Linked DNA regions of Homo sapiens. The protein of the gene in region 3 purifies or fractionates together with the protein of the main gene of each other region. This does not show direct contact. Each region holds a gene or a part of one and is shown on either strand. Other genes may lie near its edges.

Region 1 (4,214 bases), on a different chromosome or scaffold from region 3:
CTTCATATGCGTCACTAAATCGTTTCTTAAATTGTAAAGAAAGTAGTTCTTAATGTTTAAATCTGAATTTCTAAAAATCTACTACAATTAAGGTACTTTCAAATATTACATTATAATTAACAGCCCAATTAAATATAAGCCATTTTGCCATACGTGTTTAGTCCTTCGCTTTTGTCTCAATTTGACCTGAAGCCTGGATCAATTAGTCTGCACACTCAAGACGTACTCTGGGGCAAGAGGGACTAGGGAAAGATTCTTTTAAGATGGGATGATGCTGAGCAGGTTAGGCAGTTAGGAATGAATGCATATTCAAATAAGGCGCAATGAAGAAGAAATCTGCTTCCATGGGGAAATACGTTGCAATAAGATTTGAGGGAGGCCTTGAGCTGAGATTGTCAGGTAACCACACCTTCCACCCTTCAAACTCTATTCTCCCAGTGGAATCCAAACCAGTCTCCAGTTCCGGGTTCCCAACCAATCGCATCAAGCCACAACAGAGGGATCTGCCAACCCGGGCACCGCTTCAGGGATCTAGACCCAGTGAGAGTCACACAACCCCAGCACCTGTCGACCTCACACTCTTCCCAAATGGAGAGGGTGGGAAGGAACGCTAGGTCTATGCTTGGTCTTTTCCGATTCAAGCTACCACCAGGTCCACTAGCCCTCGAAACCGAAACCCCCGGACTTCGGGGAGAAGGGGAAGCTCCTACGCCGTGACTACGTATCAGTCCCTCAGGGCTAATTCTCCCATTCTCCCCCGACACTGGTTTCTCAGGCCTCGGGGACTCCGCGCCTGGAAGCCGACAGGCGAGAGTGAGGGCAGCGGGGGAGGGTGCACTCCAAAACACTGCAGGAAAAGACGGAAAAGCAGGGGCAGGAGTAGCAGTGTTCCCCCTGGGCGAGGGCCGGAGGCCGTTCGTGCGTTTGTCGATGGGTCTGTCATTCCCTCACTCACCAGGAGCAGAAGGGAGCATCTGAGGTCGGGTAAGGATAGGAAGACGGCAGGATGCATGGTAACGCTGGGGTCCGTGACAGGGACAGGCGCTGGCGGCTGGGACTGGGCTAGGTTGGGTTGGGTTAGGAAAGGGCTGGGCTCCGGGAGCCGACGGCAGCGGAGGATTCTCCAGGCAGCGGCACCTCGTCCTCTCGACCCGGGCTCCAGCGGCGAACACCCGGGACAACTTCCAGAGAGGCCTCTCACACCCTCACTTCCGGGTCCTGCCCACCTCGGTGCACTTCGGGAAATGTAGTCCTGCACTAGCCTCACCCCGCACGTCGTCCGTCATCTAGAACTTCCTTTCCCATTGGGCTCTCGGCCCCGGTCCACTGAGTCCTCTGCGCGCGGGGTCCTGTGGGATAGAAGGGCGGAGGGCGGGTGTACGCGGTGCTTCAGAGGATGGGAACTACAATTCCCAGAAGGATGTGCGGCCGAAAGCCTCGGGCGGCCTTTTGAGGGGCTCGGCTAGCTTCAGCGCCGTGGGGTCTGACCTGGCTGGATATAGTGTACCGGCCCGGCAGGAGGGGCGGCCCGGTCCGGGTTGCGCCTCCTGGAGCCGCCCCCGGGACGTCAGTCCTGGAGGAGGCGAGGGTGAGTAGGAGGGGGCCTGGCTGGGGAGGCTCAGATCATTCGGTCCGCACCGCCTTGGCCCCTGCTGCAGACTCACGGCCTTCCTGGCCTAGGCTGTGGCCTGAGCCTCCATCATTGGCCTCCTCGCCCGCTGCCTCTTCTTTCTGCTCTAATTCCTGCATTATAAAGTCAGAGCCACCACTCGGGGCCTCAGTTGAATGAGTCAATGACTTATCCCTGATTGTCTCTGAGGGCTCCTGTAAGGAGTAGATGTGGTACGGGATGGGATAGCACGTCGTAAACTGGAAAACTGTGTGAGTGATTGCTGCTAAGGCGTGGATCGCTCCTCCAGTATAATTACGAAATTCCCTAGCAAAGCAGTCGAGGATCCTAACTTGGCCCCAGGTAGCTCTGCGGCTTCTTCTGCAAACACTCAGTGAGGTCCAGGAGCCCACGCGATCTCTGCTTAGTACCCAGGAGGCACACTGTGCTTTTGTGGTTCTCCCTGCTCCCGCCTTTGCTTCAGCTTTCCTGCTGCCTGGAATGGCCTTACCCGTTCTCTCTCTGGAATGCTATCTTAAATGTCACCATCTCTGAGAACTTCCCGAACAACCAACCCTTTAGTCCTAATCAGAATTACTCTTCCTATGAGTGTGACTGCAGTACCTCTAGTTTTGTACGGTTATAATTATTAGAGCATTTATTACACGGGCTTGTTGTATAATTAGGCAAGGATGATGACACCTTTGCATTTTATAGCACTTTATCAAAGTGGTTTTGACTTTTTTCTATAAAAAATGATTTATTTTCTTAAAGGGGCAAAAAATACATTTTTTCTTAAGAAAAAAAAAGAGCCCTGCATAATGGCTTTCTCAGGGTGACAAAATTAGACAGTGATAGAGCCAATACTCTTACCAAGGCGGCCTAACTCCTAGACTAGTGCTCCTATCTCTTGTCCACGCCCCTGACAGAGCCCAAAGATAGTTGAAATGGGAAATTTTAAAAGAGCAGAGACTTGTAAGTATGAACTCATTATTCAAGAAATTAAACTTTGATCCTGCTCACTTTTTGGACTTAGCACTCAGCCTGTGACCTTTCATCCAACAAACATCTACTGAGTACTGGCTATATACCTGTTACTGTGCTAAGTGCTAAGAATTATGAAGTAAAAAGTATATATATATAATATATATAATATATGTACATATAATATATATAATATATGTATATATAATATATATATTATATATGTATATATAATATATATATTATATATGTACATATAATATATATATTATATATGTACATATAATATATATATTATATGTACATATAATATATATATTATATGTACATATAATATATATAATATATGTATATATAATATATATTATATATATAATATATGTATATATAATATATATAATATATGTATATATAATATATATATAATATATGTATATATAATATATATATTATATATGTATATATAATATATATTATATATGTATATATATTATATGTATATATATAATATATATAATATATATACATATATATTATATATATAATATATATTATATATATAATATATATGTATATATAATATATATATTATATGTATATATATTATATATATTATATATGTGTATATATAATTTATATATGTATAATATATACACACACACACATATATATAAAACAGAGATCACATTTTTAGTGTATTTTTCAAAGGGTATAAAGAACTTTTTTTGTGGTTCTGATGTGCCTAAAACTCTGATCACTTAGAATGAAAAATGACAGGTCTTAGAGTTTAGAACAGTGCCTAGCACATAGTTGTCACTCAGCTTGTTGAATGAACGAATGTGAACATGGTCTAACCTTATTATTTTTTGCATTTTACAGAAACCTAGAAAGCTGACATAGCCTGAGGACACACTGCTGATTATAAATACAACTGGGCCTAGAACCCAAGTGCAGTTACTCCCCTCCCATGTTTTCACCTCCACCTCTATTTTGTAGCTTCTCTCAAATAACCTTAATATAATCCTGGATATGACAGTAGTTCTTCTGACATGACTGTTAGACTCAGACATGACTGAAGTGTCTCACAACACCCTCTTCCTCCATATTTTCTGCCAGTCCTTAACTCAAATTGTCAGCAAAATAAAGACGTAAGGAGCTGTGCTTTACCATAATTAAGAAAGTATTAATATGTTCTCTCAAGGGCAGAATTTGAACCAATAATCCTTGTCGATGACAAGACAAATACCAGCTCATCCGTTATAAATTTATCTTAGAAAACTCTCAGATCCCCAGGAGTAACAGCGATTGGCGTGACCTGCTTTTTGGTGAAATCAGAAAAGGACTTGCCTACCCTCATGGCAGCAATTAACTGGAGCTGATTAACAGCTGCTCCCTTTAGATAAGTACATATGCTTGAGTTTACCGTGATTCTGTGACTCCCTACGTTTCTAACAGTTGTTACCTCTCTGGTCCTTGTAGGCATTCAGCTTTGGAACTTTGATAAAGCAGCTTAAGGGTTTAGGAAGGATGTTTAAGATCACTGATGCAACTATTCATCTTTCCTTCCCATCAGGTGTTTGAATTGTTGCTGCATTTCTCCAGCCTCTGCTTTCTTAAACAC
Region 2 (4,071 bases), on a different chromosome or scaffold from region 3:
CAGTCCAGCCTTTCGGTCCCAGCACTCCCTGGACTTCCTGTTTGGGCCTCCAAGCCTTTGCTCCCCTTTGGCCTTCACCCCCATCTGCTCCCTAGACCTCAGTCCATCTGGCAAACACTTCACCATCGCCCTCTCCATGAAGCCTTCCGGCCCACCTTCCAGGATGACGTGAGCTGGTGCCCTTGCTGCGAGGCTGTCTTCCCCCATCAGCACAAGTGTGAGATTCCCTCAGGGCAGACCCACATGCTACTTGGGCCTGGTACAAGTGTCTGATGTCAGGCTGGGCACTGTGGCTTCACACCTATAATCCCAGCACTTTGGGAGGCCGAGGAGGGCGGATCACCTGAGGTCAGGAGTTCGAGACCAGCCTGGCCAAATGGTGAAACCCCACCTCTACTAAAAATACAAAAATTAGCCGGGCATGGTGGTGCATGCCTGTAATCCCAGTTACTCGGGAGGCTGAGGCAGGAGAATCGCTTGAATCTGGGAGGCAGAGGTTGCAGTGAGCCGAGATTGCACCACTGCACAGAGCCAGACTCTTTTTCAAAAAAAAAAAAAAAAAAAGCAGGTGTCTGATATCCCCAACCAGCTCTGTCCAGGAAGGGCAGGAAGAGAGGAGGAGACAGGTGGGTTGGGGGAGATGGCAGGGGAGCACTCGGGGTCATGGAGAGGCTTTGGCTAGACGGAGCAGAGGAACCACTCAGGGTCTGTGTCCTGGCTGCGGGGTCCATCCCCCTCCCTACCCAAGAGGAGGCTCTGGTCTGCCCCCAGACACCTCCCAGCACCCAGCAGAGGGCCCACCCAGGCGGTGCTGGTTGAGGGGCTGAATTGGGGAACCACAGGTAGAAAGAGAGGCCAGGCCGGGTGCGGTGGCTCACGCCTGTAATCCTAGCACTTTGGGAGGCCGAGGCAGGTGGATCACGAGGTCAGGAGTTCAAAACCAGTCTGACCAAGATGGTGAAACCCCGTCTCTACTAAAAATACAAAAATTAGCCGGGCGTGGCAGTGGGCGCCTACAATCTCAGCTACTCGGGAGGCTGAGGCAGAGAATTGTTTGAACCCGGGAGGCAGAGCTTGCAGTGAGCCGAGATAGCGCCATTGCACTCCAGCCTGGGCGACAGAGCGAGACTCCGTCTCAAAAAAAAAAAAAGAAAAGAAAGGGGGGCCCCAGGCGAGCTCGGTCCCACCCAGCAGGCGGGGGCGGGGCAGGGCAGAGTGCTCCCCCCGCCCCCCGCTTCCTCCCCGAGGGCCCCGGAGCCCAGCTCAGCCTCAGTCCCCGCAGCTTGTGCGGCGGCGTCGGCACCATGAGGCGAGGGCCCCGGAGCCTGCGGGGCAGGGACGCGCCAGCCCCCACGCCCTGCGTCCCGGCCGAGTGCTTCGACCTGCTGGTCCGCCACTGCGTGGCCTGCGGGCTCCTGCGCACGCCGCGGCCGAAACCGGGTAAGGGGGACCCACGGGGCGCGCGGCGCCGGCAGCTGCGGGGAGAACGGGGCCCCGATCGCCAGGGCGCAGGCAGAGCCCCGACCCCCGGGGGCGCCGAGGGCTGAAAGGACCCTGTGGGCAGGGCCTGGAGGGGCCCGCGATCACCGCGTGGCCCTCACCGCCGCCTCTCTCCCTCCCCTTGTCCACCGCCCCCCGGCTGTCCCTCCCCTCCCCGGCCAGCCTCGCCCCCCTCCGCCCCTCCCCGTCCCCGCTCCTCCCTCCCCTCGGCCCCCTGGCCTCCCTCCCTGTCCCCTCCCGAAGCAGCCGGGGCCAGCAGCCCTGCGCCCAGGACGGCGCTGCAGCCGCAGGAGTCGGTGGGCGCGGGGGCCGGCGAGGCGGCGCTGCCCCTGCCCGGGCTGCTCTTTGGCGCCCCCGCGCTGCTGGGCCTGGCACTGGTCCTGGCGCTGGTCCTGGTGGGTCTGGTGAGCTGGAGGCGGCGACAGCGGCGGCTTCGCGGCGCGTCCTCCGCAGAGGCCCCCGACGGAGACAAGGACGGTGAGTTCCGTGTGTAGGGGAACCAGTCTGAGCGGGGCGCAGGGGCTGGGGTGTCGGGACGGTCTAGGGGGAGATGCATGGCCCCTGAGGGGGAGAGAAGGGCTTTAAGGGGAAACGGAGACAGAGTGGAAAAGAGTTTGCGCTGAGGAGCTCAGGCTGGGGAGGGAGACATAGTCCTGCCCCTGAGACCCTGGTCGGAGCCAGGAACAGCTCTGCCCTGACAGACCCCAGTGTGAGGAAGAGACAGGTTGCAGGAAGGGGGCCCCGTCTGAGGGAGGAGTCTGTCCTGCCCTTTGGGAGTCTAACGGAGCTTGGTTCCCCCATAAATCCCTGAAGAGTTTGCCAGACTGAGCCCCAGCTCCCCAACTCCCTGCCCTGCCAGCTCCCCACTGGCCAGGCCTCTGGACTCAGGGTCAGCCAGGTGCCACCCCTCCCCACCCTGCATTGGGCTTCATTTGACGGAGGACTGCCCCTCCAGAGGAGTCTTCTAGGGGAGGGAGGGAAGGCTGTGACTGAGTACGGAGCCTCTACCCCCTCTGCCTGCAGCCCCAGAGCCCCTGGACAAGGTCATCATTCTGTCTCCGGGAATCTCTGATGCCACAGCTCCTGCCTGGCCTCCTCCTGGGGAAGACCCAGGAACCACCCCACCTGGCCACAGTGTCCCTGTGCCAGCCACAGAGCTGGGCTCCACTGAACTGGTGACCACCAAGACGGCCGGCCCTGAGCAACAATAGCAGGGAGCCGGCAGGAGGTGGCCCCTGCCCTCCCTCTGGACCCCCAGCCAGGGGCTTGGAAATCAAATTCAGCTCTTCACTCCAGCATGCACATGCCCTCTTTCTGGGACCAGGCTAACTCTGCAGAAGCACAGACACTACAGACCACAGCATTCAGCCCCCATGGAGTTTGGTGTGCTTGCCTTTGGCTTCAGACCTCACCATCTTTGACAGCCCTTGAAGGTGGTAGCCCAGCTCCTGTTCCTGTGCCTTCAAAAGGCTGGGGCACTATGAGTAAAAGACCGCTTTTAAAATGGGGAAGGCACCATTAAGCCAAAATGAATCTGAAAAAAGACCAAGTGGGAGGATGCCTAATTTGTAGTTGGGTGGTTTTTTGTGTTTGTTTGATTTTTTTTTTTTTTTTTTTTTTTTTTTTTTGAGACGAGTCTTGCTCTGTCGCCAGGCTGGAGTACAGTGGCGCGATCTCGCCTCACTGTAACCTCCGACTCCTTGGTTCAAGTGATTCTCCTGCCTCAGCCTCCCGAATAGCTGGGATTACAGGCACGCACCACCACAGCCAGCTAATTTTTGTATTTTTAGTAGAGACGGGATTTCACCATGTTGGCCAGGATGGTCTCGATCTCCTGACCTCGTGATCCGCCCTGCTCGGCCTCCCAAAGTGCTGGGATTACAGGCATGAGCCACCATGCCCGGCCTTGTTTTGTGTTTTGGTTTTTTTTGAGACAGGGTCTTGCTGTATCACGCAGGCTGGAGTGCAACGATGGGTCCCCAGCTAATTGCAGCCTGGGCTCAAGCAATCTTTCTGCTTCAGCCTCCTGAGTAGGTGGGACTACAGGTGCTCCACCTTGCCCAGCTAATTTTTTTTTTTTTTTTTTTTTTGAGACAGAGTCTCGCTCTGTCGCCTAGGCTGGAGTGCAGTGACGCAATTTCGGCTCACTTCAAGCTCCGCCTCCTGGGTTCACACCATTCTCCTGCCTGAGCCTCCTGAGTAGCTGGGACTATAGGCGCCCGCCATCACGCCCGGCTAATTTTTTTTGTATTTTTAGTAGAGACGGGGTGTCACCGTATTAGCCAGGATGGTCTCGATCTCCTGACCTCGTGATCCGCCCGCCTCAGCCTCCCAAAGTGCTAGGATTACAGGCGTGAGCCACCGTGGCTGGCCTTTTTTTTTTTTTAAAGACAGGGTCTCGGTATGTTGCCCAGGCCAGTCTCAAACTCCTGGCCTCAGGCAGTCCTCCCCGAAGGGCTGGGATTATAGGCAGGAGGCGCCGGGCCTGGCCTCTATTTCTTTAATACCTGCCCTCAGAGCCGTCCTGCTTTTAAACTGATGCAAATGGCAGCAGTGAATAATCAATTCATG
Region 3 (2,999 bases):
CATGGTGGCAGGCGCCTATAGGTCTAGCTACTTGGGAGGTTGAGGCAGAAGAATCACTTGAACCCAGGAGGCGCAGGTTGCAGTGAGCCAAGATTGCAGCACTGCACTCCAGCCTGGACGACAGAGCGAGACTCTGTCTCAAACAAAAAAAAAGAAGAAGAAAATGTCTCTGTTAAGAAAATGTAAATTTGTCCTCTGAGAGACATAATTATGAAAATGAAAACTCAGTCACTCCTCAAAAGAGTATTTAGAATTTAGGTCCTAGACTTCAAATCTTTTAGAGTGATTAGAGATGCTTTTGTCCATGTCATTTTATAAATGAGTCCCTGGAATCTAAGAAAAGTTAAAGGACTTGCTAAAGGTCATACAGCTAATTGGTGGTAGAACCAAAATTAGAACACAGACTACAATTCTAGCCTACATCCCCCAACACTTCATACACATATGCAAATATTTTTACCTATGTAGTCAGATCCTGAGAACCATAATCATACTATTTAGAATCATGGCTGTATGCTATATAAAGTTGTTTTGTTAAAAATGGGTGTTTTTATTTGTTTGTTTGTTTTTTGAGACGGAGTCTCGCTCTGTCTCCCAAGCTAGAGTGCAGTGACATGATCTCGGCTCACTGCAACCTCTGCCTCCCGGGTTCAAGTGATTCTCCTGCCTCAGCCTCCCGAGTAGCTGGGATTACAGGTGCACACCACCATGCCCGGCTAACTTTTTTGTAATTTTAGCAGAGATGGGGTTTCACCATGTTGGCCAGGCTGGTCTCAAACTCCTGACCTCAAATGATCTGCCTGCCTTAGCTTCCCAAAGTGCTGGGATTACAGGTGTGAGTCACTGCGCCCAGCCTAAAAATCTTTATTGCAAGAATAAAGCTTCCATGATTATGGTTAAAAAGGGTTGTTTAACTAGCTGGCTTTAATCCATTAATACAGAGTGGTCTGTTATATTTATCTAATATTATATCTAAGCAGCTTTGTTGATGTCCCTGGAAGCAACTGCCCATATCATTATAAATTATATGTATCTCCTTTGAGATAAGTAAAACATAATCTTACAAAAGAGTAAACATTTTATTATTTGTACATGAATCAGTTTGGTCTGAGGATACACAAGCATCTGGCTAACTCATAAAAGTAGCCTGAAGTGATTGATAGGAGAGTGTTTGTAGTCATTTCCATTTGCTGCCACATCCCTTACATTATCTACTTGCTAAGCACTGAGAGGCCCAGAATGGACACATCAAACTGTCAGGAGGAACATATGGGACACTGGCACCTGCAATGGTTTTTTTAAAAGCAGAGAATGCAGAGCAGTCACAGACTCCACTTCAAAGCCAGGGTGTGTGGAGGTCTCCGGGGAAGAGCTCTGCACAACAGGTTTCCTGGGGGCCAGAGGGCCTCTCGGGGAGGAACAGAAAAAAACCAGCCAGGAGTGCTACCGACCAGCCTCAGCCAGAATGCTGTCAGAACAAGGCCCCAAACATGGCCTGGCCTCAGTGATCTGGGGATGAACGGTGTCACAAGGGAACCACCTGAAGGGTGGGCAGAGGCCCCCGTGGAGGAGCCACATACTCTTCCTCTCTCAGCAGCCGCAGCAGGATGTTTTTTTTATTCTTGGGCCAGCTGTAGACATGAGTGTTCTGAAGCCAGGTGGGCACATGCTCCTATGGGAGGCAGAATGACAGGAGCAAAGGTCATTAGAGAAAAACCTGGATGCCAGATCCCAGGCTCAGTTCCCAAACATTTCTGGCTTTCCCTACATGGGCGTTTCCTACCAAACTATCCTGGGAGTTGTGCTGTTTTGCTTTTGGAAAGGTTTAGCATGTGAAATGTTCTTGGCTTCGGGTACAAGCTGTATATCTCATTATAAAAACCACATGTGCACAGCATTTTCTGTCAGTCTCCCAGACTACCTACCCTTTGCATTTCAACTTGCTTTTCACCACCCTCACATAAAAGGGGTAGGACAGAGGTCACACAGAGTGATGTGAATTCCCCTGTGACTTCAGAAGAAGTATGCCAGGGCCGTAGGCTTAAATCAATTCATTACTCTTTCACTCCAGCCCCAGGTCTGGCCTGCAGTAGAAGGAGCCCATCAGACCTCAGTGATCAGGCAGAGGCAGAAACTGTTAGCCAGGGATCCTGGGGGTGCAGTGTCAGACTGCCCTCATGGAGTGGATGTTCTGGTGGGGAGAGGCAGATAATAAGTAAATGGATAGTGTGTTCAACAGTGATGTATGCTGTGGAGAAGAATTAAACAAGAAAGGGGACAGGGAGTGCTGGGGCAAGGGTGAAAGATTTGCAGTTTTAAACGGGGTGCTTAGGAGAGGTCTCACTGAGAAAATGAGCAAAGACCTAAAAGAGTGGAAGAAGCAAGCTCTGTGGTTGTCTGGGTCCAGGCAGATAGGAGAGTCAGTGCGAAGGCCCTGTGGAGGGAGTGTGTTGGGTCTGTTCACAAGCAACAAGGCCACTGTGAGTAGAGCAGAGTGAGTAGGTGCAGAGGTCTGGAAGTAGAAGGGGCTGTATCGGATAGTGCCCTGTAGGCCACCATAAGGCCTTTGCTTTTGAGTCTAACTCCTAGGGACTATAGGACGGGACTTCTCTAGGTATTGTGCTTAGAAGCAGCACCTGCTGCATGGCAGGCATCATACTGAGTACTGAGGATGCCCAAATGAAAAGGACGCAGGGACTGCCTTGAGGACTTCAAATCTTAGGATGAAAGCAAAATGTCAACAAATGATTTTCTAGTCAATGGTGTACCAAGGGGACAGGTGGTGAGAGCGGCCTGTGCTGGGCTCAGGTAATACGGGCATTGTCTGAAGGAGATTTAAAAATAATAACAAAACCAATGAAAATTTGGTCTATTTTGTATATCGCCATGCTCCAATAATTCTCAACAATTATTCCCAGTACCCTCAACCCAAACACATACCATTGACCCAAGGTGCTAGAATTAAGCACCCTTAAGAAAGGGACAATGAAATATATCAG

Evidence for each region. The genes of interacting proteins can lie anywhere in the genome.
Region 1: the proteins of TRAF3IP2 (region 3) and INVS purify together in Homo sapiens (affinity purification with mass spectrometry; one large-scale study listed by BioGRID and IntAct). This does not show direct contact.
Region 2: the proteins of TRAF3IP2 (region 3) and TNFRSF13C purify together in Homo sapiens (affinity purification with western blotting, with the first as the bait; one study listed by BioGRID). This does not show direct contact.

What each region holds. Positions count from the first base shown.
Region 1 is NC_000009.12:100,097,829-100,102,042, forward strand, and holds the start of INVS (inversin), read left to right. Parts: upstream 1-1,414; 5' UTR 1,415-1,588; intron 1,589-4,214. Other genes in the region: ERP44 (endoplasmic reticulum resident protein 44 precursor), read right to left, coding at 956-1,012. UniProt on the Homo sapiens protein: Required for normal renal development and establishment of left-right axis. Probably acts as a molecular switch between different Wnt signaling pathways.
Region 2 is NC_000022.11:41,924,007-41,928,077, reverse strand, and holds the start of TNFRSF13C (tumor necrosis factor receptor superfamily member 13C), read left to right. Parts: upstream 1-1,271; 5' UTR 1,272-1,304; coding exon 1,305-1,440; intron 1,441-1,746; coding exon 1,747-1,977; intron 1,978-2,523; coding exon 2,524-2,711; 3' UTR 2,712-4,071. Other genes in the region: CENPM (centromere protein M), read left to right, coding at 96-273. UniProt on the Homo sapiens protein: B-cell receptor specific for TNFSF13B/TALL1/BAFF/BLyS. Promotes the survival of mature B-cells and the B-cell response.
Region 3 is NC_000006.12:111,557,880-111,560,878, forward strand, and holds part of TRAF3IP2 (E3 ubiquitin ligase TRAF3IP2), read right to left. Parts: intron 1,673-2,999; coding exon 1,526-1,672; 3' UTR 1-1,525. UniProt on the Homo sapiens protein: E3 ubiquitin ligase that catalyzes 'Lys-63'-linked polyubiquitination of target protein, enhancing protein-protein interaction and cell signaling. Transfers ubiquitin from E2 ubiquitin-conjugating enzyme UBE2V1-UBE2N to substrate protein.